4 linked regions of the Homo sapiens genome follow. The protein of the gene in region 3 interacts with the protein of the main gene of each other region in a pairwise test. Each region holds a gene or a part of one and is shown on either strand. Other genes may lie near its edges. The genes, in order: PDE4DIP, ZUP1, ARHGAP45 and RINT1.

Region 1 (7,023 bases), on a different chromosome or scaffold from region 3:
TCCTCTGTAAACCAAATTTAGAAAGAGACGATAAGAAATTAGGCTGGTCCCACTTCCCGCATTACAAATGCAGGAGCCTATCTGGAGACAGAGTAGTGAGCATTTCATGTGTGCATCCAGAACAGTTATTCTGGGATACCTCAGCTTGTGTCTCTAGAGAAGTGACCCCACTGTCCCTGACCTGCCGGTCACCATGATGACTTCCTCTGCCCTAAATCAGGGTAAAACATTTATAATGTCTTTTGTTCCATTAATCATGAGGCCCTTGCCCAGCTGCCCTGCGGGACACTCCAGCCTCCATGTCCTGCTGCAGACTAGCTCCCCAATGCATATGCCCCACCACAGCTTTCATGCAGAACCTGCACTGGTCTCTGAGGAGATGACAAGAAGCCCTGCCCCACCTCTGCATCTGCCACCAGGTGGTGGGCTGGGTGGCTCCCAAGTCTGATCCTACTTTACTCCCTTGGATAGTCGCTGGAAATTCTGAGTAGAAGACCCCAATAATAACCAATGTAGCCCTTGAACTACTGCAGCCAGTGCCTAAACCATGTATAAAAGAGCATGGCGCTTTATCCATATGTGGAGTACCTGCATGCACATTACCATGCCATAAATGGAGACACCACAAGGATAAGGCATTTAGCGAGTTGGTGGCAGCATCCAGGCCAGAGCTTGAGTCTTGTAGTTCTTGGTTCAGGGCTCTTCCTCCTATAACAAAGCCCTTCCATCTCATGTCCCCTACTCCCTCTTAGCATCAGAGAGATGCTGCCCCTGCCCCACAGGTCACATTCCATTAGTGGTGAAGTTTCTATAGTTGTAACCATGGCATCTCCAGCCCTGTGTTTTCCTCTCCATGCTCCCCACTGAGCAGTCTTGATCCTGTATTAGCCCCAGGAAATGAAATAGAAACAGGACCTTAGGATAAAAAGTTGCAGTGGAGATGTGGTGGCCACCAGGGGCTGGAACTGTGGGGGTGACTGAGAGTATTCCAAAGCCCTGTGGCCAACTTACTGGTGCTGAGTTTGCTGGTGAGCCTCTCTGTCAGCTGGCTTCCCTGGGCGAGTTGCTCCCGGAAGCTCTGTCCCAGGTAGTAGTCAATGTCATTGCTCCTTAGGAGATCCTCAAAAGATTTTACTGTATCTTTTGCATGCCGGGTGATAAGATAACAAATACCTCTCCCTTCTCGTATTTTTTGCCGTAGGTAAGACAGTTCCCGGGCCTGATCCTGAATCAGGGAATCATATTTCCTAATGCAGGACAGAAGAGGAAAGTGTAAGTATGGAAAGAGTGGAAGCTAACTTATGGAGTTATGGGGGCTTCTGTAGAGATTTCTATGAGAACATCTCTAAGGAACTCCCCCAAGCTGAATTCTGGCACATAAGCCATAGGAGGTATTTAAGAGTAAATTCTACCCTGATAAAGTATTGCATTAAAAAACTTAGTACGGGCCGGGCGTGGTAGCTCACGCCTGTAATCCCAGCACTTTGGGAGGCCAAGGCAGGCAGATCACAAGGTCAGGAGTTTGAGACCAGCCTCGCCAATATGGTGAAACCCTGCCTCTACTAAAAATACAAAAAAAATGAGCTGAGCATAGTGGCACATGCCTGTAATCCCAGCTACTCGGGAGGCTGAGGCAGGAGAATTGCTTGAACCTAGGAGGTGGAGGTTGTAGTTAGCCAAGACGGCACCACTGCACTCCAGCCTGGATGACAGAGTGACTCCGTATCAAAAAAAAATTTAGTATGTCACTGTTCTTCAACTGTTATACATGTGTTAATTATATGTCCCTAGATAAATCATAAGGTCTGTGAGAATAAACATAGTTCTGCATTTTACATCCCTTACAGCACCAGTATCACATAGATTCACAGCAGTTACTCAATGAATAATTAGCATCATTTCATCCTAAGTCTAGATAGAACCTTTCATGCCTTCTGTTTTAACCACCACCTGATGCCTGAATTTCTTCTATGTTACGATACTGTGGCTGACTACATTTTGCAATGATGGCCATCATTTAAACGCTCATACCATCAACTGATGGGACCCAAAACAAGAGACCCTAAGTGAGAACCACCCAGCTGAGCCCAGTCAAACCATAGAACCATGAAGCATAATAAAGTGTTGTTTGAAGTCACTAAGTTTTAGAGTGGTTATTACTTAGCAATAGATAACCAGGACACACCAAGATGAATGTCTGTGTTTTCAACACTAAGTATCAATAACACTTATAACTATGGCAAATAGCATTGAGAGCTTAACATATGCTAGGCACTATTCTAAGCACTTGTATTAATTCTTTTTTTTTTTTTTCCGAGACAGACTCTTGCTCTGTCACCCAGGCTGGAGTGCAGTGGTGCCATCTCGGCTCACTGCAACCTCCACCTGCCAGGTTCAAGCGATTCTCCTGCCTCAGCCTCCCGAATAGCTGGGATTACAGGTGTGCACCACCATGCCCAGCTAATCTTTGTATTTTTAGTAGAGATGGGGTTTCACCGTGTTGGGTAGGCTGGTCTCGAACACCTGACCTCAGGTGTTCTACCTGCCTTGGCCTCCCAAAGTGCTGGGATTACAGGCATGAGCCACCACGCCTGGTCAGCAGTTGTATTAATTCATTTAAACCTAATATCCACCCTTTGAGATGGGTTCTCTTATCATCCTCATTTAATAGGTAAGGACAAAGGCTCAGAAAGGTTAAGAAGGTTGCATGGGTAGTAAGCACCAGAGGTAGGTAGTCTGATTCCAGTATTACTACTATACTATACCATCTTTACTAATATATCCCTAAGAGGAAATCCCTGAGACCCGGTATCTCCCAGATACTGGAACATCATCCTATGCCCTCCTGGTTGCCTACCTGTCTTTTCTGCAGACCTGTATCTACCATTTAAATCAGTGTCCCTGTGAATACCCAGACATGTTCTTTCTTCCAACTGCCTGAGCTACCCTACGCCAAGCATGAACTTACACATTTTCAATCAAGAAAGTACCCAAACAGTGCCATCCTTACCCAGGCCACGAGGCTGATCTCAGCTCCTCAGCCAGCTTCTCTTCTAGTCCATTTTTTGGGAGCTGGGCCTCCAGCTGGGATACTCTCTGGATGAGACTCTCCAGGTCCTTTTTGGCCTGAAGCCCTGGAGAGTAGAAAGCCCCAGTGCCATCAGACAGCCACCCCTCATCCTCATCAGGGACACTATGAGGTGAAGACCCCTCCAAGGTGCCAACAGCTCTCAGCTTCCGGGGTCTTTCCAGACTAGACGAATAATCACTTGTAACTGAGAGGGACCGGACCCGGCTCTTGAGGTTTTGAATGACCTTGTTGGCATTCTGCAGCTGGGCCTTCAGATCTTTGATGTCCTTTCGTAGGACCAAGATGTTTTCTGACTTTCCATATACCCGGAACTCTTCCTGCTTCCCTAGCTGGTTCTCCAAGGGCTTCCTCTCAGAGGAACTAGCCAGTGTTGAGCCCCGGCGTCCCTGCTCAGAGCACAGCCCCTCCATCAGGACCATTTCCTTGAGGCTGTTGTGCTCCTCACACTCTGAAAAAAGACAAAGATGTCTTCCTAAATAAAAGTTGGATGTGCTGTTGTGGCCACTGCCTTTGAGAGGAGGCAGGTTTGGTCATGAGGACAATAATTACTAGGGAAAAAGTTGAAGTAGTACTTTATTCAACCCTGACACTGTACTAGGCATTCAAATACAATATTTCTTATCTTCCTTATACCTACAAGTTAGGTTTCATCACTTTCTATTTTACTGACTGGGAAACCAAAACTTAAAGAGAGGTGGTAAACTAGCTTGTTCTAGATCACTCAAACTAGCACATGGCAGAGCCAGAATTCAAATCCTCCAATGTCCTGTGTTCATTCCACACACACTGGTGTTTCTTAAGACATTAACATGGCCTTATCTATTTAGGATGGCCACAAGAATGTAGGACAAGCTATTACTGCATGCTGAAAGTTTAATGCTCTTTAAATTTTACTATAATTTAAAAGTTTATTGGGTTACAACTGTATGAAAAATAGGCATAGGAAAATAAGGCTTCAAATAAATATATCAGCATGTTAACATCAGTGTATTAGGGCAGTGGTAGTCAGAATGAGAACTAATCCATGGCATTTTACCAGATGCCAGGCACTGTTCTAAAGCATTTTATAAGAATTTACTCATTTAATTGACCTTAGTACCTGATGGGGTAGGTAGTTCCTTTATTACTATTTTAACACATGAAGAAACTGGGACATAGGAAAGTTTTCAAACTGGGATTTGAACCAACCAGTCTGGCCCCAGGATCTTGTCTCTTAACTGCCACACTACACTGCCTCAAGAATGAGAGAGATTGTGTTTTTCTTCTCTTCTGGTTTTCAATGTGGTGGGTGGCCCTATAGTTGTAGTCTTTTTATAATGCAAAACAAAATTATTTTTAATTTATGGCTTGCATGTTTCTAAAACCTTATCTGGTCTCTAAGTAGGCCTTAGTATTTCTATAATAATCAGTTGGATAGAATTTTATATTATTATTGTTATTAGCAGTATGCCAAAAACTAATTGTAGAAATTCAAACTTATACTCAGCCTCATTTTGGGTAAGATTTCTCCTATTAACCTCCTGTCCTCCTCTTCCCCAATACTTGTCAGGTGTGGAATTGGCCAACAGCATCCAAATGTGACAGCTGACTCCAGGGAGGGGTGAGCCCCACACCCTGTGCTCTTACCAGGACTGGTGGTTTCCTCCCGTTCAGCCTCATTCTCGCTTCGGCCACAAGTCTCATAGCCCAGGTCCTGGAGGTCCACCTGGATCTGCTTGCTGTCCTGCTTCACCAAGGATTCACCTGCTTGGGAAGAGAAGCAGGTGTTACAGAATGTCTGAATTTCCCACATATGCCCTCAGCCTCAATGGCACATACCCTAACCTTTTGAGGCACGGAAGGCAGATCCACAGTGGGAGAGAAGCTTCTCTGAACTGGTGGGAGAAGAGATCACCAGCTCCAGGAAGCAGAATTTCTTTCCAAAGGAGGAGCCTGCATTTGCCATTATCTCCCCTTCAGATAACCCAGGCTTTAGTTGGGACCAGATATCTGTAAGTCAGGGATTGTACACTATCATCTCTAGCAGCCCCATTGAAGCTGGCAAGTGCTTTATCCGCAGGGGTTCAATAAATGTTGAATGGAGCTGAACTAATTTAGAGTCCCAAGACCCTAGACCTGTACTGTCCAATAAGGTAGTTAGCAGCCACATATGGCCACTTTATACTACATCAACTAAAATTAAATAAAACCAAATGTCCAAGTTGCACTAGCCACACTTCGTGTGCTCAATAACCACGTTATGTCGGTATAGAACATACAGAACTTATAAGACATATAGGCTAGTTTTCTTTACTAGTAAGTCATAGTTACTTACTAAGCATAACTCTGTATTTCTCCAGCTCGTTAGCCTGAGCAAAGACAGTGGCTTCTGATAGCAGCAGCTTCTCCTGGAGATCTTGATAGCGTTGTTTGCATTGTGACAGCTGGGAGCGCAGGTGCTGGGTGGACCCTGGTAGGCTAAACGCTGACTGAGGCCCAGGGTCACGAGGCTGGGACTGGTTATCCAACTGTGAAAGGGGCCAATACAGGGATCAGGACAGTCTGAGGTCACCCCCATGCAGTGACGACCACCGCCCCTTCTGAACCCTGTGGACTTTACTCAAGTCTGTCACAGCACTTCTCATGCCATTTGGCAGTGACTTGCTTTCCAGATGGAGCTCCTGGAGCGCTGGGATAATGTTTTCTTCATATCTGTATCCACAGCACACAGCACAGCACCAATCAAGTCTACAGAGGAGCTCTCAGGAAATGTTTTCTCAGTGGTCAAAAAGAGACCACTCATCTCCCCTCACATTCTGTCCCATTGATTCTCTCAGAATCCCTGTATTCTCCATTTCACTGAATCTTCAGCATGGCTCCTTCCCTAAAGAGGATCCCAGTAACCCATCTGAAGCCCAGGAACAGACACCTGTGATGAGCTGTGACAAAAAAATGGCAGTGATAAGGGATGTCATTACATACCACTTGTCTGGGCTGCCTCATAACCTGATGCATCCCTATGTTACAGCAGTTACCACATCCTGTTAAAATTACCTGTTTGTGTGCCATCTTTCCCGACAATATTAAGTATCTCAGGGGCAGCCATTGGTTTTATTGCCCCATGCCAATGCCTAGTGTGTTATCTGAAAAATTAAGTACTCAAGAAATATTTATGTTATAAAAGCCTTTCTAAAGGCTGAATGTAGGCAGAATATTACTATTATTGTTTGTGGTACAAAGAGACCCTTCTCTTGGTACCTCCTGATTCATATGGGAGAATGTTTTAAGGTAAACACTGTCATCTCAAGCCCTTCTCCAATTGTTTTTCACTCAATCTAAGCCCACACTTACTTGGTGGGCATCCACTGTGAAGGTAGCCCCAAGGTCAAGGCTCTGGGGTCTGGGGAAAGGCCTCACAGTCACATTCCCCTCCTCTTGGTGTTGGTGCTTCCCAGGGGAACCAACCAGTTCTGTGTTTATTCTTTCAATGGTGCTGGTCAGATGCACAAGGAGCTCTGGAGTAAGTTTACTATTCCCTTCCTTGCTACTCAGCACAAGTTGTTCTTTGAGGAGGTTGATGATATTGTGGGCATTCTTCAGTTTTCCCTGGAGCTTTCTGAACTCAGCCTGAAGGCTACTCTCACTCAGACCCTCTTTGGTTACCACAGTCTCAACCATCACCTCGCCCTTCTCCTTGTCTTCCTCGATCTCCCATCCATCAGACATTGCTTCTCCCATCTGCTCTTTCAGCTCCGCATTCTCAAGGCAAAGGCTCAGCATGGTGTTCCTGCAGGAAACACACTTAATTGAGGGCTAGGTCTGGTCCTCACAACAGTTCCTAATACTACCTCTTACCAACATCTCAGCCCGCAATTAACTCAGACTTACCCCAGAGCATGAAGCAACCTGAGACCTACCACAGCCCCCTAATTTTATATACAAGAAAGCCAAGG
Region 2 (7,495 bases), on a different chromosome or scaffold from region 3:
TTTTTTTTTTTTTGAAGAGACGAGCTTTTGCCACATTGCCCAGGATCGTCTCGAACTCCTGGACTCAAGGGATCTGCCCACCTCGGACTCTCAACTTGCTGGGATTACAGGCATGAGCCACAACACCTGGCTCCACAAATTCTTAAAGTTCAACAATAAGAAAAAGACATAAGATCCTAAATGTGTACACACCAACAATAGAGTCTCAAAATACATGAAACAAAACCTGACAGAGCTGAAAGGAAAAATAGATAAATTTACAATTATAATCAGGGATTTCAACAACCCCTTCTCAAAAATTGATAGAACTACTAGACAGTACTACTATAGAAAACAAGCAAGGATATAAATAATCTGAACATAAACAACAGGATCTAGTGACATACATATAACATTCCACCCAACAAAGCAGAATACACTTTTTTTTCCCAAGTATCCACAGAACATGACCAAGATAGCTCGTGTCTTGAGCCATAAAACAGGCCTCAACAAATTTAAAAGAACTGATATCACAGAGAGTTTGTTCTCCAATCATAACAGAATAATGGAGTCAAAATAGAACTCAATGCAAAGTCAGAGAGTCCAGGACAGTCCAGATGCTACTGGGTTAGTGACAATAAAAAGAATACCCTCTGGAAACTAGACAGAAAGTTCCAAAACTACTCTCAATGTAGCTGAAACATTTTATATCTGCATTAAAATTCTTTTCCATAATGTACTTTTATATTTCAGTAACAGCAAATGAAAAATGTTATAGACATAAAATGGATTTCAAAACACATCTGTAGTAAGCTGACTTACAAACCAACTTTTAAAATACCACATATTAAATTGAGGCTGTAAACTTATAATTTATAATGAAATGAAAACTTTACCTTCCAATGGAATGTCTAAAAGATTGGCATGCTTTGTTTTCACATGAGTTTCCATATCTTCACTGTGCTCCTCTATTTTTCCACAGAATGGACATTCAGGAGGACTGTATGTTGTTTCATAAACAGATCCTTTTATTTCGGTCAGGCTGGACTGTTTTTCCCTACTTTTCAGGAATTTTCTAGATTCAGTTAAGTTCTCTGAATAGAAGCCTTCATGTTTTAAAGTACTATCTTTAGTCAGGTTTTGAGCTGAATTTTTTGGATGATTAGATGCACAACCTGAAAGAATACTTGAATTAACTTCCATTCCACACTGTAGGGTGTTGTCTTTCTTGTTATCTGAAGTTCCATATTGTACTGTATTTATCCTCTCAAAGTTTCTTTCAAGTGTATTCTGCTCAAAATGAGCTGTTTCGATATGAAAACACATTTCATCATAATTCACACCTGACAACTTGCAAAATGGACATATAATTTCACTTTCCATGTGAACAATTAGGTGAGCTTTCATGTCTGGTTCTGAGGTTACTGTTTCACCACAAATATTACAGGAAAGCATGGTATTGACAAGTAGCTAGAAAAGAACATAACATTAGGTTTCAAAGATTTGAAGAAAAAATGTGTTTCATAAAATGATTTGAGACAATTACTTGGTCTTTAACGCTGGATTATTTTGATGAAGAAGTTTTCAATGTACTTACTGTTCCTCAAATACAAAAACTTATTTATAAATATCAACCAAAATTTCATTTATTTTTTTTTAAAAAAAGGCAATAATAATGAATACAAGTAATTTTAAAAATAAAATATTTCAAAAAATGTCTCTGGCCCAAGGTGGAGAAAAAATAACGTTTAAAAAATTGTCCAGGTAAGATAAATCAGGTAAGAAAAAAATGAAGAGAAGAAACCTATTTATCAACTGATATATCTAAATACTGAATACTGAAGCTGATTATATTGAGGAGGTAAATAAACACATCTTACAAGTAGAGTTTAACACTGTAAACTTAGAGTCTTACATGTATCAAGTGCTATTTAAGTGCTATTATTGTAATTTAAGTACTATTATTATCGCTCTACACATAAAGAAATTCTGGCTCAGACAGGTCACCACAAGCAGAAAAAGGTGGAAGCCAAAATGCCAACCCCGTCGTGCTCCACAGCCTGTACTCTCAGCCCCAAGAATAAAAGCAGAAGTGGTATAGTAGAAAAAAGCACTTATTCCAGAGTCAAGAGAACTGGGTAATAATTTCAGATTCATCATTTTGGGTAAGGAATCTCATCTCTCTGAGGTTCAGTCAAAGACTACTGTAAAATCCAAAGGTAGTTATTTTTGGATTTTATGGACAAATAAAGTACTGACTACTGACATAAAAGTGTTAAAAAAATAATTTTAAAAAAAGCAATCACTTCGCCACCACCTTCCTACTACAGGTCATCGTTCAGCTAAAGACTATTTAAAATCAAACAGGAAAAGTAATGACACTATCACTTCATTTAAATAAATTTACCTTTAAAATACCTCCCTACATTGTCCTTATTTTTTTCATTTCTCTCCAGACAAATGGATACAGTCTCTGATTTTAGAAGGCAGTTCTCCCGAGCCCCCAGTGGGATTAATGTCACACCCGGAGTTTCTTCTCTTCCGGTGGCTGGGACACGGTCAGACACAGAATGATGAACTTGGACATGGACTCAGATTAAGCGGGTAAGAGACAAGAGAGTACCCAGGTGCCTCAGAGGAAGCGAGTGAGAGGCATGAAGGACCCAGTGCCAAGCTAGGTACGTGGTGGGTGAGGTCAGAAGACCGCAAGGCCGAGTCTCCCAAACGTTCCGCGCCAAAGGCACAAGCCAGGCACACGAAACTAGCAGGCACTAACTGGGTCAAAGCTTTGGGCCTGGGGAATAAGGGAGGGGACCATCAATTCTTACCGGCCCAGAGGCCAGCAGCTGCCACACTGAGCTCCGCTAGGCTTCCCCTTTGGGCCTCGCTGGCAGACGAGTGCGTGCGCGGCGTCCAGTACCTCTCCTGGCCTGATGACTGAGGCCAGGCCTTCCCAATACGCAGAGTTTCACAGTTAACCGAGGAAAGAATTAGGAACTTCCAACACCTTGGCCCTCAGTACCTCATTCAAAAGCACTTCCTTACTCCCACGGAAAAGAAGTAATCCCAGAATGCGCCGCTCCACGCCGGTCTCTATGCAGTGCATTCTGGGAGATGTAGTCTTTTTTTTTTTTTTTTTTTTTTGAGACGGAGTCTCGCTCTGCTGCCCAGGCTGGAGGGCAGTGCGCGATCTCGGCTCACTGCAAGCTCCGCCTCCCGGGTTCACGCCATTCTCCTGCCTCAGCCTCCCGAGTAGCTGGGACTACAGGCGCCCGCCACCATGCCTGGCTAATTTTTTGTATTTTTAGTAGAGACGGGGTTTCACCGTGTTAGCCAGGATGGTCTCGATCTCCTGAGAGATGTAGTCATTTTTGCATTCCTCCCATTTCCGAGTTTTTCCTTCTCCCATCGAGTTTCCTGCCACTCAATTGCTAGGAGAGAAAACCGGGCTCTGAGGTCATTCATACTTAATCTGAATGAGTTCACAGGGCAGGTCCTGGGGCAAATAGCAGTCTACACTAGGGCCTGCTGAGTAGCACTCTATTTTAGTATCAATAAAGGGTTTATAATGCTGCTAGGTATCAAGCTCCCAGCTATGCACCGAAGGTAAAGGATACCAGGTTCTTTCCTCAAGGTTACAAGATAACAAATATCTTGGTTTGTATGTATGTATGTATGTATATATATATATTTTTTGAGACGGAGTCTTGCTCTGTCGCCCAGGCTGGAGTGCAGTGGTGCCATCTCTGCTCACTGCAAGCTCCGCCTCCCGGGTTCACGCCATTCTCCTGCCTCAGCCTCCCAAGTAGCTGGGACTACAGGCGCCCGCCACCACGTCTGACTAATTTTTTGTATTTTTAGTAGAGATGGGGTTTCACCGTGTTATCCCGGATGGTCTCGATCTCCTGACCTCGTGATCCGCCCCCCTCGGCCTCCCAAAGTGCTGGGATTACAAGCGTGAGCCACCGTGCCCGGCCGTATGTATGTATTTTTAGAGAGGAGGACTCTTTCTGTCACCCAGGCCAGAGCACAGTGGCTAAAATAGCTCACCGCAGCCTCGAACTCCTGGCCTCAAATGATCCTCCCATCTCGGCCTCCCAAAGTGTGAGCCACCATGTTAGCCCAAAATCACAAATATCTTGTCATTCAGGCTTTATTTCATTCAACAAATATTTAAAGAGTGTCTATTAGAAAGGCGTTTTGCTTGCAACAGGAGCTGCAGCAGTAATCAAAATACACAAAATTCAGGATTTTTGAGGCTTACATGCTGGTGAGGTAGAGGAAATAAAAAGTAAATTAACTGATCATGATAAGTGCTATGAAGAAAATAAAACTGGATTGGCCAGGCTCAGTGGCTCACATATGTAATCCCAGCACTTTGGGAGGCCGAGGCGGGCAGATCATTTGAGGTCAGGAGTTCAAGACCAGCCTGGCCAACATGGTGAAAGCCCGTCTCTACTAGAAATACAAAAATTAGCTGGGCGTGGTGGCAGGTGCCTGTAATCCCAGCTACTCGGGAGGCTGAGGCAGGAGAATTGCTTGAACCCGGGAGGCGTAGGTTGCAGCGAGCTGAGATCGTGCCACTACACTCCAGCCTGAGTGACAGAGCAATAGATTTTTGAGACTGAGTCTCAAAAAAAAAAAAAAAAAAAGAAAGAAAGAAAGAAAAGAAAACTGGATTATAGAGATACGAATGTTTAGAAAAGGTCTTGATGAAGGGTTGAGTGTGCTGATGAACAAACCTTACACCAACAGGGGAAATAGCATTTCAGACAGATAAAATAACAAGAACGAAGGCCTAAGGCTGGAGCAAAAAGAACACTTTTTGACCAGAGCATAATGTGGTAAGGAGAAAAATGATTACAAGATGAGGTTAGGGTTGTAGACAGGGGCCAAATCATGTAGGACCTGGTAGAAAACTAGTGAGGTATTTAAATAGGAGGGTGATGTTATCTGATGATAAATAGTATGTTTTTAAAAATTGGCTAGGCGCGGTGGCTCACGCCTGTAATCCCAACACTTTGGGAGGCAGAGGCGGGCAGATCGCATGAGCCCAGGAATTCCAGACCAGCCTGGGCAACATGGAGAAACCCGTCTCAACCAAAAAAATACAAAAATTAGCTGGGCGTGGTGATGTGGCCTGTAATTCTAGCTACTCGGGAGACTGAGGTGGGAGGATCACCTGAGCCCCAGGAGGTTGAGGCTGCAGTGAGCCATAATGGCACCATTGCACTCCAATCTGGGCGACAGAATGAGAACCTGTCTCAAAAAAAAAAATCGTTCTGGAAATTTGTGGACAAACATGGAAGATTAAACATGTAAATTTATATTTCTCTGCCTCTCAAAATCTATTAAAATGATAGCAGGAAAATAAAAATAATACTACTAACAGCTAATGAGATTTTACAAAACTTTGAAAGCTAAAAAAAGATGAATGATTAATAACGAACTTAACTCAGAACCGATGTCAACAAAAACCAAGTCAAGTCATACTGTCTTGACTTGTATGGGTTTCTGCTTGCCCAGCACAGCAGCTGGGGTCTGCTTGCCCAGCACAGCACAGCCAAACACTGACACTGGGATAGCAGCAAGAGAAAGTTGAGGCATTTATTGTAGGGCACCAAGGAAGGAGAATTGAGTAGCTCATGCTTAAGACCTGAACTCCCACATTGCTTACAGGTAAGAGTTTTTAAAGGTGAGGAGGCAGAGGTTACAGGCGACGTCATAAATCAATACACGGAAGCTATACGTTGGTTTGATTTTAAAAGGCTGGACATCTTGAAGTGGTTCGGGGCACAGGTTACAGGTGGATTCAAAGATTTTCTGACGTTTGATTTGCTAAGGAGGCAAAGCTTTGTCTAAAAATTTGGGATCAGCAGAAAAGAATATTAGCTCTCGCTCAGGGGTGTGATCTCCTCCAGGCCCCTCAGGAAGAAATTCAGAACAAAGAACAGCGATCAGGATTTAGTCTTCAGTTTCCCATTATCAGGGGTCAAATCATGTTGGACAGTAGATCTGTTTGGTGGGGGATCTGGGTTTCTGGAAAACAACCCAGGGACATATGTTAAAATGTTATCTTAAGTTTCTATAGGGAATAAAACATCTCCTGACTTTTTTGGGCCAATGTTTTAAGCTACTATTACCTTTTTGTTTATCAAATTGCTCATTTATTTCTCAGCGCTAGCTAGGTTCCTGGAATTTTCCTTGAAGGAACTCAATATTTTCCTTTATTTCCATGCTTGGGGGTTGCCCACGGGCCCCTAAGTAGGGTCCCTACTCCATCTTAATACACTCCTCCTTCCCAGAAATCTGAAAATTCCAGAAATTAAACACAAGATACTTCTAAAAATGATGGTGACATTTGGAACTAAATAAAGGATCATTTTACTGAAAGTCTGAATAAGGAACAGTTAGAACTCCAACTCTAGATTTTCTCCATCACCAGTGTGATGGTTAATTTCTCCTGAAACATTATTTCTTATTATTTCCCAGGAAGCTCCCGCCAAATGAGGGAAGAAGCAAAGAAAGTGGAAGGTATGGGGCCAGGCATGGTGGCTCACACCTGTAATCCTACACTTTGGGAAGCCGAGGCAGACAGATTGCTTGAGCTCAGGAGTTTGAGACCAGCCTGGGCAATATGGTGAAACCCCGTCACTACCAACTTGACTGAATTGAGGGATGCCTAGATGGCTGGTGAAGCATTGTTTCTAGCTGTATCTGTGAGGGTGTTTCCAGAGGAGATTGACCTGTGAGTCAGTGGACTGAGAGAGGAAGACCTACCCTCAGTGTGGCAAGCACCATACAGTCAGCTGAGGGCTAGGCTGGGGCAAACAGGAAAGAGAGGGAATTCTCTCTCTTTGCTCTCTCCCTTCTGGAACAAGACACCTTTTTCCTTCCTGCTTTTGGACATCAGATTGCACCATATTCATCTTTTAGACACTGGGATTCGCACGAGTGGCTTCCCAGGAACTCTTGGGCTTTTAGCCTCAGAGTGGGGGCCAAACCCTCTGCTTCCCTGGTTCTGAGGCTGCTGGGACTGAGCCACATTACCAGTTTCTCTGGTGCTCTAGCTTGCAAGATGGCCTATTGTGGGACTTCCACCTCTGTGATCATGTGTCAATTCCCTAATAAATTGCCTCTCGTATATAGTATTGGTTATGTCTCTCTGAAGAACTCTAATACAGCTAGGTTGCCATGAGACTCCTCTTTCCCTTCCAGATAGAAGACTACAGATTTAGTTCATGAAGAAAACGAACCAAAAAAACCAGCTATGAACCCTATCCTGGGGGTTCAAAGGCTTGACCCTATCCTTAGGGTAAAGGCACTGGACTGAAAATGGGAAATAGGGAAGGCTAAATACTAAATTATGAACCTCTTGCTCCTTTTCCCCCATCACATCTTGATATGTGATTTCTGCCTCCAAGGCAGGAGGTTGGAAAATTCCTCCCCAGAGAAATCAATTGTCCCAAGAGAAAGACCTAACAGATGTCAACTTTTAGGAAGTTATCCAATGATA
Region 3 (7,023 bases):
TTAACAAACCCACCCACACAGCCCGTAACAGCTACTGACACCCGCTGTTGCCCAGGCGGTCTGTCCTCAGCCAAGAGCAAACCCGAGAAACCGCAGCCCCTAAACACCCAGGGAAGATGGATTGAAAGAATACGAGACGCCGCGTGCAGTGGCTCACACCTGTAATCCCAGCACTTCAGGAGGCCAAGGGGGGTGCGGATCACTTGAGGTCAGCAGTTCGAGACCAGCCTGGCCAACAAAGTGAAACCCCATCTCTGTTAAAAATACAAAAATTAGCCGGGTGTGGTGGCCGGCGCCTGTAGTCCCAGCTACGCGGGAGACTGAGGCAGGAGAATCGCTTGAACCTGGGAAGCGGAGGTTGTGGTGGGCTGAGATCGCCCCATTGCACTTCAGCCTGGGCAGCAGGAGCGAAACTACAACTCCCAGAAAAGAAAATCTGAAGCGGGGAATTGACCTCGCGGCGGAGTGCAGTGGCAGCTCGGGCAGGCTGTGGACACCGGGCCAGCGTGGAGCTTGTGGCTGCAGGCAGCACCGGGATGGGAAACGGGGAAGGAAGCTGGGGGTGAAGGGTGAGGCCCAAGGCCAGCCCCAAGGGAGAGTGGAGGGGCGGCCGCAGAGCCTTTGCACCTCTGCCAGATTCAATGCAGACCTCGCTGAGTTTTTTGCATAAAAGACACAAAAAGACAGTGGCCTCCCGAACAGCCCTGTCCAAACCAAATTATCTCCCTGTGGTTCCTTGGGCTTCATCCGACAACGACTGTCCCCAGCAGCGCCCCCTGCTCCCCAAGCCCCGAGTGGCCAGCCCCGGTCAGGCCCACACCCTCACCTGGCCCCCGGGGGTCTCCTCCGGCTCCTCCTCGAAGACCAGGCCGTAGTGGACGATGAGAGTCTCGATGACGCGGGCCTGATGGGGATAATCCACCAGGGAGGAGAGGGACACGGTGGCCTCGGTGGGCCGTGGCCGAAGCAGCGTGGGCCCGAACACGATGCCCAGGTTCCCGGGGGTCATCTTGTTGTCCTGCTCCACCTCCACGATCCTGCGGGGTGGGCAGGGGCCAGGTGCTGAGCGGCTCCCGGGACCCCGCGCCCTCCACTCCATATGCCGGGACTCACCTGCGTAGGTGACGCAGCAGGTACTGCAGCGAGGCCCGGTTCTCAGGCGGCAGGTCCCGCAGGAGCTCCCGCAGCCGACCTGCCAGGGCCACCGCCACTGCCTCGCTCTCCGAGCCGTCCTGCCGGCCCCGGGACGCCGCCTTGGCCTCGGCCTCTGCCTTCAGGCTGTCCTTGGCCAGCCCTACGAGCTCGTGGTAGAGGCGGAAGGAGATGAGCGGCTCGGGAAGCTGCGCAGAGTCAAGGGTCAGCAGGTGTTGGTGGGCCTGGCCCAGCCCCCACGTGTGCCTGCCACGCCCCCAGCCTCAGCCCCACCCCCACAGAGCACTGGCCACACCCCACCGAGCTCGGGTTCCACCCAGAGCGGCGTCAGTCCCCTTTCCCAGCCCAGCGTGAGCCCTGCCCCTCCTACCCGGGCCACGCCCGCAGCTCCACTCCCTTTCTCGCTCTGGCCACGCGCGCCCCGCCCTGCAGGTACCCTAACGAGCTCCGGCTCCACTCAGCATAGTCTGACCCCTTCCCAACCACCTGCGAAGTGCTGGTCCCACTCCCATCCCAGCCCAGCTCCGCCCTTCCCCAGACATGACCACGCCCCTAGCCCCAGTCCCGCCCTTCCCCGGGGATGACCACGCCCCTGGCCCCAGCCTCGCCCCACCAAGCCCAGGCCCCACCGCCAGCCCCGCACTTGTCTAGCCTCAGCCCCGCCCCTAGCCTCATACGGGTCCCTGCCAAGCGCTGAACACGCCCATCTTGCTCTGGCCACGCCCCACCGAGCCCCGGCCCCGGCCCCGCCCCCGCACAGCGTCAGGTGTGCCTCTGCCGTGGCCACACCCCTGCCACGTGCTGACCAAGCCCCACCCCGCCCCTCCTGTCCCTGTCCGTGCCTCGGCGCAGAACTGGCCCCGCCTCGCTCCTACCGTGACCACGCCCCCAGCCTCAGCCCTGCCCTGCCAGGCACTGTCCCGCCCACCCTGTCCTCCCCAGGCCCCCGCTTGCGCCAGTCCTGCTCCAGCTCAGTCCTGCTCCAGCTCCCGGACCCCCACCCCGCCTCCTCCTGCCTGGCTACGCCCCTTCCAGGCTCTGCCTGGCCACCACCGGTGGGTCTCACCTGACGCAGGTAGAGCTTGAGGACGTTGCTGATGTCGTGGGGCGAGGCCTGCGACAGCTCGACCAGCTCCTTGCCGTTCTCGAAGGCCTGGCACAGCTTCTCCACGCGTGTCTTTACCCCATTGACCCGGTAGATGCCCTGCGGGAGCCCGGGGGTGGGGAGGCCCATCAGCCTCGGCCCACTCCCGCCTCCTCGCTGTGAGCCGCTTCCTCCCCCGCCTCACCTTGGTGCGCAGCGCCCGCCGCTCGATCTCGCAGACGCACTTCTTGACGATGAAGGGCACGCCGTCGGGGGCGCTGCGGGCCGCGTGGCTGAAGTCCTGGCCGAACAGCTGCAGGCGGCCTTGCAGCTTCTTGTGCCCGCACTGTATGGCCAGCGTCTCCAGACATTTCTTGTGGCAGGCCAGGCAGCACTGGGGGCGGCCAGAGTGAGTGAGCCCAGCCCCGGGGCGCCCAGCTCAGCGCAGCCCCCAGCGGCTCCACCCCACCTCCCCGGGGCGCTCACAGCCCCCACACGGCAGCTTCTGCAAACACAAGCTGGACAGTGGCTCGTGGCTTCCACCCCAGGGGTGATCCCGCCTGCCCTGTGGCCTCCTCTCCTTCCCGCCCCTTGGTTTTCTGGACACAGCTCCAGGGCCTTTGCCCTCCAGGTCTTCTGGCCACAGCCCCAGGACTCTTCACCCTCCAGGTCTGCCCCCTGCCTCGCTGCCTCAGAGAGCCAACCCTGCTCCCCAGAACTAAAAGAGCCCACCCCACCCCCTCCGTTCGCTTCCTTCCAAAGGCGTCCGACTGCTCCCTGCTCTGGGCCGGACATTCCTGAGGGCACACAGGCCGGCGGTGCTGGGCACCCCAAAGGCTCCCGAAGGCTCCCAGCTGTCCGTCGGGGCGTCCCACTCACCTCTTCACACTCAGCACCCTGGAAGTAGACGTAGCTGTTGCACTCGCGGCACTTGGCGGGCGTGCGGAGCTTCCGGAGCCGGTGAGTACGGGCCGCCTTGGACAGCCCCTCGTGGCGGAACGGTCCACTGGGCACGGCCACCGGCAGCTCGGGGGTCATGCCGTTGAGGTCAGCTGCGGGCAGCACAGGCAGCCGGTGTCACCAAGGCAGCTCAGGGCCAGGCCCATGGACTGTGTCCAAACCCCCCTCTCTCTCCAGCCCCGTCAGGGGACCCTCACCCTGCTCAAAGGCTGAAGCCCCGGCTCCACCGTCTGGGTCCACCAGCTCCTCCGTGGACGACATGGTACCACTGGATGACGTCCGCTCGAACTTCTTAAAGTCCCCTGGGCGGGAATCAGGACTGTTCAGACTCCCCCAGCCAGGGGGGCCCCCTCCATCACCCCGGTGGGTGATGAAACCCTGAGGCTCAGGAGAGGAGGCAGCTCCACACCCCAGCCCGCCAGAGAGCCTCCCTCACCTGCGCCAGGGCCGGGGTCCAGCCCACTGTCCGAGTCTGAGATCGAGAGCGGCCATGACTTGTGAACCTGGTGTCCTCGCCCGGCTGGAGAAAGAGGCGTCTCTGGTGAAGGGCCAGGGTGGGTCGCAGGGAGCCAGCGTCCGCCCCTGGGCCCCGCCGGACACTCACCCCTGTGGTCCTTGGCAGGTGTGCCCTCAGTGCACCCGCCTTCTTCTGGGGGGCTCCCGGCAGCCTCCGGCCGCGCCACATCACTCACGTTGAAGCTGCTCTTCCGGGCACGCATGACGGGGGACCTAGTGGAAGAAACCGGGAAAAGGAGGGGAGGTGATGGGGGGCAAGACAGCTTCATCTTCATGCCCCCGACAGAGGGAAGCCCGGCTCCCAGGCAGGGCCTTGTGCGCCGGGGACAGGGCAGCTGGGTGGCGGTACCAGGCGTTGGCGGAGACGTGGGGCTCAAAGTCGTAGTGCACATCGGGCTCCTGGTCCCGCTGCAGCTGGCGCACGTGGGAGGCGTACTGCTGGCCTGGGTCATACAGCTTGCTGCTCTCACACAGCATCTGGAAGTGCACGGGCAGCGGCGCCGTCTGCATATGCATCATCTGGTAGTAGGAGATCGTGGCCTGCGGGCGGCACCGGAGAGCGGAGGGGTCAGGAGGAGGCCGCCCGGTCCACCATCCCCGCCCGGGCGGCCGGAGCACCCCACGCACCGACTTGATGGTTTGGTCGCTCTGCCGGATGACCTCCTGGATCTGCCGCAGCGCCGTCACCTTGGTATCCTCCAGCTCCTGCTTCTGCGTCTTCGCGTCGGCCACGCAGGTGCGGTAGGTGGCCATAGCTTCCTCCGCCTGCGGTGGGGGCGGGGCGCACAGAGAGAGGCCTCAGCCCGGGGTGCAGGACTCAGACAGAAACCTCAGGGAGGCGGGGCTGACGCCTGTCATCCCAGCGCCTCGGGAGGCCACAGTGGGAGACTTGCTTGAGGCCAGGAGTTCGAGACCAGCCTGAGCAACATGGTGAGACCCTCCCCATCTTTTTTTTTTTTTTTTTGAGATGGAGTCTTGCTCTGTAGGCCAGGCTGGAGTGCAGTGGTACGATCTCAGCTCACTGCAACCTCCACCTACCGGGTTCAAGCAATTCTGCCTCAGCCTCCCAAGTAACGGATTACAGGTGCCCCCCACCCACCATACCCGGTTAATTTTTTGTAATTTTAGTAGAGATACAGGGGTTTCACCATGTTGCCCAGGCTGGTTTCGAACTCCTGGCCTCATATGATCTGCCCGTCTCAGCCTCCCAAAGGGCTGGGATTACAGGTGTGAGCCACCACACTCAGCCTGAGACCCCCATCTTTATAAAGAATTTTTTTTTTTTTTTGAGACAGAGTCTCGTTCTGTCGCCCAGGCTGGAGTGCAGTGGCGCGATCTCGGCTCACTGCAAGCTCCACCTCCCGGGTTCATGCCATTTTCCTGCCTCAGCCTCCCGAGTAGCTGGGACTACAGGCGCCCACCACTACGCCCAGCTAATTTTTTGTATTTTTAGTAGAGACGGGGTTTCACCCTGTTAGCCAGGATGGTCTTGATCTCCTGACCTTGTGATCCACCTGCCTCGGCCTCCCAAAGTGCTGGGATTACAGGCGTGAGCCACTGCGCCCGGCCAAGAATTTTTTTAAATTAGCTGGGTGTGGCGGCACACGCCTGTGGTCCCAGCTACTCTAGAGGCTGAGGCGAGAAGATTGCTTGAGCCCAGGAGGTAGAGGCTGCAGTGAGCCATGATCACGTCACTGCACTCCAGCCTGGGTGACAGAACAAGACACTGTCTCAAAAATAATAATAATTTAAAAATCGGGGCCGGGCGCGGTGGCTCATGCCTGTAATCCCAGCACTTTGGGAGGCCGAAGTGGGTGGATCATGAGGTCAGGAGTTTGAGACCAACCTGGCCAAGATGGTGAAACTCTGTGTCTACTAAAAATACAAAAAAATTAGCTGGGCTTGGTGGCAGGGTGGCTGAGGCAGAGAACTGTGTGAACCTGGGAGGCGGAGGTTGCAGTGAGATCTCACCACTGCACTCCAGCCTGGGCAACAGAATGAGACTCTGTCTCCAAAAAACAAATTGGCCGGGCGCAGTGGCTCATGCCTATAATCCCAGCACTTTGGGAGGCCGAGGTGGACGGATCACGAGGTCAGGAGATCGAGACCATCCTGGCTAACACAGTGAAACCCCGTCTCTACTAAAAATACAAAAAATTAGCCAGGCGTGGTGGCGGGCGCCTGTAGTCCCAGCTACTCGGGAGGCTGAGGCAGGAGAATGGCGTGAACCCGGGAGGCGGAGCTTGCAGTGAGCCGAGACTGTGCCACTGCACTCCAGCCTGGGCGACAGAGCAAGACTCCGTCTCAAAAACAAACAAAAAAACAAAAAAACAAAAACAAAGGTCTGGAGGTAGTAAATGTCACACCAAGCATTGGATCTCCTCCTCCAGGGACCTCCAGCCCTGCCTCCACCCGCCCTCACCTTGTTCTTGGCCTCCTCCTCCAGCCGCCGCCGCTTGTCCAGGGTCTTGGTGGCCGTGCTGCCTGCTCCCGGCGCGCTGCCAGCCTGCTCCTCCTCCGCCTTGGCCACGAGGAAGCGAGCCTTGTCGTGGTCCTCGCAGCGCTGCACGTAACCCTGCTTGGCCTTGCGCAGGTTGGACTCCGCCTCTTGCTGTGGGTGTGGGAGCCAGGAGGCCAGTTCCAACCCTATCCTCGGATGGGACTCAGTCTCCCCAGCTCCTCCTTTCCTCCCCACCCCCATCTCTCTCAGCAAGGCCCCATGGCCCAGCTGGGCATGCAGAGGACCCTGCACAACAATCGGCAGCGGAAAAACAGGAGGAGTGGCCGGGCGCGGTGGCTCACGTCTGTAATCCCAGCACTTTGGGAGGCCGAGGCAGGTGGATCACTTGAGGTCAGGAGTTTGAGACCAGCCTGGCCAACATAGTGAAACCCCGTATCTACCCAAAATTTAAAACAATTAGCCGGGCATTGTGGTGCACGCTTGTAATCCCAGCTACTCGGGAGGCTGAGGCACTAGAATCGCGAACAGCTTGAACCCAGGAGGCGAAGGTTGCAGTGAGCCAAGATTGCATGCACCACTGCACTCCAGCCTGGGCAACAGAGATTCCAGCTCAAAAAAAAAAAAAAAAAAAAGAACGGGAGGAGGCACCCGTAACAGGACACTCGGAGAAATGGGTGTCCTGTGTGCCCACTCTGCAGCCCGGGAAGCTGAGGTGCAGCCAAGCTCTGCACAGAGGCTCACACGGCAGCCTCTGCAGACACGCACACCAGCCCCCACGGGAGCGTCTCCGGGCTCTTTTGCTTTCACTTCCCTCCTCACAGACGAGAACAGAGAAGCCGCCCAGGCAGGA
Region 4 (7,023 bases), on a different chromosome or scaffold from region 3:
ATGGTGGCGGGTGCCTGTAATCCCAGCTACTCAGGAGGCTGAGGCAGGATAATCCCTTGAACCCAGGAGACAGAGGTTGCAGTGAGCCGAGATCGCACCATTGCACTCCAGCCCGGGCAACAAGAGCGAAACTCTGTCACAAAAAAAAAAAAAAGAAGTTGAGTGATAGCCACGCCACAGAAGTTCATTTTCCTATTCTATTTACTCTTGCATATATTTGAAAATTTGATACATGAAATGTTAGTTTCTTATTTTTATTTTTTGTAGAGACAGGGTCTCACTATGTTGCACAGCTGGTCATGAATTTCTGGGCTCCAGTGATCCTCCCACCTCAGCCTCCCAAGTAGCTCGGACTACAGGCATATGCCACCACACCTGGCTAATTTTATTTTATTTTTTATTCTTTGGAGAAATGGGGTCTCCCTATGTTGCCCAGGTTGGTCTCCAACTCCTGGGCTCAAGCAATTCTCCCATCTCAGCCTCCTAAAGTGCTGGGATTAAGAGCATGAGCCACTGCACCCAGCCAAATAGATTTTTAATGTATGAAACAATTAAAACTTTAAATGTTTCTTCCTATTTTCATGACTCTTTATAATCTGTCATGTTTTGAAGACATTCAAGAGGTATTAAACATTATTCTTTTATTTTCCTTAAAGTCCTGGATTGCTTTTGACATCATTATTTAATCTTAGCTCTTCCTGTGATTGCAATTACCATACATGAATATTTCCAAGTATGGTTCACTCTATAAACAACTATTTCATGAAAGGCTTGCTTGCCTTTCCAATGATTAAATACATTAAAATATCAGGACTATTTAACTACTTGAGATTTGATTGAGAAAAATGTGTATTTTAATTACACCTTTTAATTATGGCACTATGGTTCTGTCTAGCATGTTTATTTTTGCTTGCAATAGATTCAACATTTTGAAAAGTATTAATAAAATAGTTCGAACTAGTATATATTACTTAATATAAAAGCATATTAACTCACAACATTGTCAGCCCAATCTGCTAGTACTGTTGAGATGTAGTTCACAGCATTAAGAATTGCACAGTATCGAAAGCCAAGGGAAGCTCTAGTCTCTTCTTTCATCACTTGTGTTAATCGTATCCTAAAATCATCTACTAAGTCCTTCTGTAACTCCAGGAACTGAAGCTTTCGGGAAGCTGTGGGAAGATTTTTATACCTGTCTGTGGAAAAAGTTATTAAGACATATGAAGGTTTTGGTACCATCTATGATATAGTTATAAGTTTTCCCTACTGTCCTGCTTCAGTGCTTTTGTCAAAAATCAATTGACCAGTAGTCAAGAATGGATTTATTTCTGAGCTCTCTTAAGGATGTGAGTTTCAAAAGTATATACATTTGCCAAAACTCATTGAACAATACAAATAAGATCTGCACATTACACTGTATGTAAACTATACCTCAAGTTTTCAAAAAGGCAAATGAAAAAATTATACATAAAAATGACAGTTTTGGCCAGTCGTGGTGGCTCACGCCTGTAATCCCAGCACTTTGTGAGGCCAAGGCAGGTGGATCAACTGAGGTCAGGAGTTCAAGACTAGCCTGGCCAACATGGTGACACCTCATCTCTACCAAAACTACAAAAATTAGCCGGGCAGTAGTGGCGTGTGCCTGTAATCCCAGCTACTTGGGAGTCTGAGGCAGGAGAATTGCTTGAACCCGGGAGGTGGAGGTTGCAGTGAGCCAACATGGCACCACTGCTTTCCAGCCTAGGCAACAGAGTGAGACTCCATCTAACAAAAAAAAAAAAAGAAAGAAAAAAAAATGACAGTTTCTTCAACACAAATAAACAGCATTTTTTTAAAAAAGAAAGAACTTCAATAAATTAAAAGATACACATTTAAGAATTTACAGGCAGTTGGCCGGGCACGGTGGCTCACACCTGTAATCTCAGCACTTTGGGAGGCCGAGGTGGGTGGATCACGAGGTCAGGAGATCAAGACCATCCTGGCTAACACAGTGAAACCCTGTCTCTACTAGAAATACAAAAAAATTCGCCGGGCACAGTGGCTCACGCCTGTAATCCCAGCACTTTGGGAGGCTGAGGCGGGTGGATCACGAGGTCAGAAGATCAATACCATCCTGGCTAACACGGTGAAACCCCATCTCTACTAAAAATACAAAAAATTAGCCGAGTGTGGTGGCGGGTGCCTGTAGTCCCAGCTACTCGGGAGGCTGAGGCAGGAGAATGGCGTGAACCCGGGAGGCAGAGCTTGCGGTGAGCTGAGATGGCGCCACTGCACTCCAGCCTGGGCGACAGAGTGAGACTCCATCTCAAAAAAAAAAAAAAAAAAAAAAAAAAAAATTAGCTGGGTATGGTGACGGGTGCCTGTAGTTCCAGCTACTCAGGAGGCTGAGGTAGGAGAATGGTGTGAACCCAGGAGGTGGAGCTTGCAGTGAGCCGAGATTGCGCCACAGCACTCCAGCCTGGGCGACAGAGCGAGACTCTGTCTCAAAGAAAAAAAAAAAAGACAATTTACAGGCAGGCATGGTGGCTCACGCCTGTAATCCCAGCACTTTGGGAGGCCGAGGCAGGTGGATCACCTGAGGTCAGGAGTTCGAGACCAGTCTGGGCAATATGAAACCCCATCTCTAGTAGAGCCGCCACCATGCCTGGCTAATTTTTTTGTATTTTTAGTAGAGACGGGGTTTCACTGTGTTAGCCAGGATGGTCTCGATCTCCTGACCTCGTGACCTGCCCACCTCAGCCTCCCAAAGTGCTGGGATTACAGGTGTGAGCCACCGTGCCTGGCCAACTGCCTGTAAATTTTTGTATTTTTAGTAAAAATACAAAAAAAAATTAACCAGGCATGGTGGCAGGCATCTGTAATCCCAGCTACTCAGGAGGCTGAGGTAGGAGAATTGCTTGGACCCAGGAGGCGGAGGTTGCAGTAAGCCGAGATTGCGCCATTGCACTCCAGCCTGGGTGACAAGAGCGAAATTCTGTCTCAAAAAAAAGAATTTACAATTGACATGATGAGATGTCTGAAATTTTCTTTGAAATACTCCAGAAAAAAAAAATTGAGGAGTAAAATATAACAGAAAAGTGATAATTGCTTTAAACTTTGGCAATAGGTACCTGAGAGTTCATCATATTATCCTACTTTTGTGTATGTTTGAAAATTTTCTGAATAAAAAGTTTTTAAGAGACATGAATTTTCCTTAATTTTTTTGTCTTAGTATTTTTCATATTTTTCTTATAGTTAAAAATATGGAATGATGACTGGGCACGGTGGCTCATGCCTGTAATCCCAGCACTTTGGGAGGCCGAGGCAGGTGGATCACAAGGTCAGGAGTTCAAGACCAGCCTGGCTAAGATGGTGAAACCCCGTCTCTACTAAAAATTCAAAAATTAGCTGGGCGTGGCAGCAGGTGCCTATAATCCCAGCTACTTGGGAGGCGGAGGCAAAAGAATTGCTTGATCCTGGGCAGCAGAGGTTGCAGTGAGCCGAGATCATGCCACTGCACTCCAGCCTGGGTGACAGAGTGAGACTCCATCTCAAAAAAAAAAAAAAAAAAAAAAAAAGGAATTATTTACTGACTGGGCTGGAATGATACTTCTTCAGGTTACCAGACAAGCCTAAGAAACGGACAGGCTAGTGGTTGACGAAGGTGAAGAGGGCCAGGGATGGTGGCAATGAGGGTCCAGTGGCACCTGGACAACAAGCAGGCCCACAAGGGGGCAACGTGATTGGCTAAAGACCAACCAGGGCCAGAGGATGCTAGGCTACCCTCCAGCCAGAGAATCCCTGCACTGTAACAAAAGTTCCTATTACTACTCCAATCCTTAAAATTACTTCATTATTTTACTCTCTTCTGCAATCTTTGATAAATCAAGATCAAGACAATATTTAAAATATAGGCCAATCACCATTTACTGAAGACACCTAAAAAGCCCAATAGCAAGACAGTTTGGATAATAAAATTAAATTCCTATTTAATTGTTTTTGTGTAATTATTCAGGAAGTTTTCCTTCATGTATACCAATGTTTAAATCCTTAAATTATTAAAAACCCAAAAGTTAGAATATTGTGTTAGATTTCTACCAATATAGAAACTGAATTTGAAGATAACAACCATCATATAATATTAATTTGCTGAGCCACTTATTTATTGATTACTTTATTGACAGGGTCTCACTCTGTCACCAAGGCTGGACTGCAGTGGCGTGATCATGGCTCACTGCAACCTCTACCTCCCATGCTCAAAAAATCCTCCCACCTCAGCCTCCCAAGTAGCTGGGACTACAGGCACACACCACCACAACTGGCTAATTTCTGTATTTTTTCGGAAGAGAGGGCATTTCACCATGTACCCCAGGCTGTTCTCGAACTCCTGGGCTCAAGCAACCTGCCCGTCTCAGCCTCTCAAAGTGCTAGGATTACAGGCATGAGCCACTGCACCCAGCCTACTGAGCTACTTTAAAAACTACCACGTGAAAACAGTACTTTTAAAACAAAGTCATATCTTAAAAGACATACTTACCAGTTATAACCAAGAGTAGAGTCATAAAAGTTTCTGCACAATCTGGAACTTTCATTTCATCCACGTCAGTGATATCCTTATATTGCGATACCCAGGCAGCTTCTGAGGAAAGCATTGAGTCCATTTTTTGAAGAGCAACTGATAAGCAGACAAAACAATTATGTCAATTAAGTAGTTACAGTCGTTCCTAATTATTCAACTTGTAATTTTTTAGGAATGATGGCTTTTCTATAAAAAAGAAACAAACCTACAATATCCCACTGGTTGTACTAAATTTAACTTAATTAATGCTTTAAACAGGATACTTTACTCCCATCCCCAAATTCTGAAAATAGTTATGTTGACTAGATAAGCTACAGTAAAAAATATTCTATTGGCCAGGCACGGTGGCTCACACCAGTAATCCCAGCACTCCAGGAGGCCAAGGTGGGTGGATTGCTTGAGTCTAGGAGTTCACAACCAGCTTGGGCAAAACCCCAGGGAAACCCCATCTCTACAAAAAATACAAAAAGTAGCCAGGCATGGCTTGCATATACCTATACTCCCAGCTACTGGGGTGGCTGAGGCAGGAGGATCACCTGAGCCCCAGAGGTCGAGGCTGCAGTAAGCCATGATCGGCCCACTCCACTCTAGCCTCGGTGACAAAGTGAGACCCTATCTCAAAAATAAAAAAATAAAATATTCTGACACTTTGGGAGGCCAAGGCAGGTGGATTACTTGAAGTCAGGAGTTCCAGACCAGCCTGGCCAACATGTTGTAACCCTGTCACTCCTAAAAACAGAAAAATTAGCCAGGCGTGGTAGTGCGTGCCTGTAATCCTAACTACTCGGGAGGCTGAGACAGGAGAATCGCTTGAACGCAGGGGGTGGAGGTTGCAATGAGCTGAGATCAAACTACTGCACTTTAGCCTGGACAACAGAGCAAGAGTCTGTCCCAAAATAAATAAATAAAAATAAAATAAATTATATGATAAAATCTATAAAACAAACACCCCACTGGCTTGACTATTCCACTCTAGAAATATGTAGAGTGTAATTTCAGGAAAAATGGAAGTTTCATGTGAAGTAAAGAAAAGATTATCTCTGAAGGAAACAGAAAACCCTGAAAAGGAAATTTCAAATGGCTCTAGTTCCTATTTAGAACTGGAGAAGAAAAATATCAAAAATGTATACCCACAGAAACAGACATATCTCCCTACCATCTGGCCACATCAGCACTTACATTTTCTCTCCACCGTCAACCATCTCTGAAAACAGGTTTCCTCTGATAGAATATGCATACAACTAGCAAAAGTGCCAGGATAGCCATGAACACTGTGTAGCTCCCTTTCAAACAAGAGTACTTCATCCACCAAATGACAGAAGAGATTGTCATCATATAGCAGACAAGGAATATCAGTGGCTAACTTCTCAAGAACCAGCATCATAAGGCCCCGAGAAAATTCAAGCTAAAAAAATACACAAACATGAGGTATGTAAATAAAAAGTTATCCATGCACACATACAGTTCTAAAACAGAAACACTTATGACTGAGTCTCTTACCCTTGCGTTTACCAAAGAGCCTACTTTGTCTAATATTGGCTGAATCTTCTCATCCAGAAATTCAGTATGGTTTCCAATCCACATAAGTACTTGAGCCAAGTACCATTCTGGCTAAGGAAGGAGGAAAATAGTTTGAATTCTTAAGTCATTCCAATTAGAAAGTTACAATTACATGGTTCTATTTAATTGTATATGCACAACACTTATAAAAATTAGTTGAAAATTCCTGTATGTAAGAGCACAATTTCTACTCCAAATTTTAAACTCCTGCAAGGCTTAATAATCAAATGTTTGCTAATGTACTCCCAACAAATTTCAATAATATGACTTAAGTCAATAAACTCATAAATTTACAATGCCATATATATTTAAAACCTAGCACTTCAATAATATGTAAAATGATGAGTATTACAAAGAACTGATGGCCTATATTTTTTGAAATAGCATTTGAAAATAATTTTAATATTATTTTCTTATGGTTTTTATTTTCAAAAAGTAAATCAAGAAAAAAATTGCTGGCCAGGCGTGGCAGCTCATGCCTGTAATCCCAGCACTTTGGGAGGCCGAGGTGGGTGGATCAGCTGAGGTCAGAAGTTCAAGACCAGACTGGTCAACATGGTGAAACCCCGTCTCACCTAAATATACAAAAATTAGCTGGGCGTGGTGGTGGGCACCTGTAATCCCAGCTACTCAAGAGGCTGAGGCAGGAGAATCGCTTGAACGCGGGAGGCAGAGGTTGCAGTGAGCCGAGATCACACCATTGCGCTCCAGCCTGGGCAACAAGAGTGAAACTTCGTTCCAAAAAAAAAAAATTGCTAGTCTGCATTACAAAAACTACGCATGTCTTATACAGGTTTAAGAGCAGAAATACCAAGTACATGCCAGGCGCAGTGGCTCACTCCTGTAATCCCAGCACTTTGGGAGGCTAAGTCAGGTGGATCACCTGAGGTCAGGAGTTCCAGACC

The links.
Region 1: the proteins of ARHGAP45 (region 3) and PDE4DIP interact in binary tests that used the Homo sapiens proteins (3 or more experiments, as listed by UniProt).
Region 2: the proteins of ARHGAP45 (region 3) and ZUP1 interact in binary tests that used the Homo sapiens proteins (3 or more experiments, as listed by UniProt).
Region 4: the proteins of ARHGAP45 (region 3) and RINT1 interact in binary tests that used the Homo sapiens proteins (3 or more experiments, as listed by UniProt).

Annotation. Positions count from the first base shown.
Region 1 is NC_000001.11:149,001,425-149,008,447, reverse strand, and holds part of PDE4DIP (myomegalin), read right to left. Parts: intron 6,858-7,023; coding exon 6,422-6,857; intron 5,599-6,421; coding exon 5,406-5,598; intron 4,838-5,405; coding exon 4,718-4,837; intron 3,540-4,717; coding exon 3,011-3,539; intron 1,248-3,010; coding exon 1,012-1,247; intron 5-1,011; coding exon 1-4. UniProt on the Homo sapiens protein: Functions as an anchor sequestering components of the cAMP-dependent pathway to Golgi and/or centrosomes.
Region 2 is NC_000006.12:116,665,759-116,673,253, forward strand, and holds the start of ZUP1 (zinc finger-containing ubiquitin peptidase 1), read right to left. Parts: upstream 3,009-7,495; 5' UTR 2,808-3,008; exon of another isoform or gene 2,387-2,807; intron 1,450-2,386; 5' UTR 1,435-1,449; coding exon 876-1,434; intron 1-875. UniProt on the Homo sapiens protein: Deubiquitinase with endodeubiquitinase activity that specifically interacts with and cleaves 'Lys-63'-linked long polyubiquitin chains. Shows only weak activity against 'Lys-11' and 'Lys-48'-linked chains.
Region 3 is NC_000019.10:1,077,157-1,084,179, reverse strand, and holds part of ARHGAP45 (rho GTPase-activating protein 45 isoform 1 precursor), read right to left. Parts: intron 6,785-7,023; exon of another isoform or gene 6,414-6,784; coding exon of another isoform or gene 6,324-6,413; coding exon 6,135-6,323; intron 4,478-6,134; coding exon 4,340-4,477; intron 4,253-4,339; coding exon 4,062-4,252; intron 3,926-4,061; coding exon 3,801-3,925; coding exon of another isoform or gene 3,717-3,800; coding exon 3,633-3,716; intron 3,499-3,632; coding exon 3,394-3,498; intron 3,289-3,393; coding exon 3,116-3,288; intron 2,631-3,115; coding exon 2,442-2,630; intron 2,357-2,441; coding exon 2,219-2,356; intron 1,341-2,218; coding exon 1,114-1,340; intron 1,038-1,113; coding exon 827-1,037; intron 1-826. UniProt on the Homo sapiens protein: Contains a GTPase activator for the Rho-type GTPases (RhoGAP) domain that would be able to negatively regulate the actin cytoskeleton as well as cell spreading.
Region 4 is NC_000007.14:105,549,201-105,556,223, reverse strand, and holds part of RINT1 (RAD50-interacting protein 1), read right to left. Parts: intron 6,170-7,023; coding exon 6,059-6,169; intron 5,964-6,058; coding exon 5,738-5,963; intron 4,655-5,737; coding exon 4,517-4,654; intron 1,197-4,516; coding exon 997-1,196; intron 1-996. UniProt on the Homo sapiens protein: Involved in regulation of membrane traffic between the Golgi and the endoplasmic reticulum (ER); the function is proposed to depend on its association in the NRZ complex which is believed to play a role in SNARE assembly at the ER.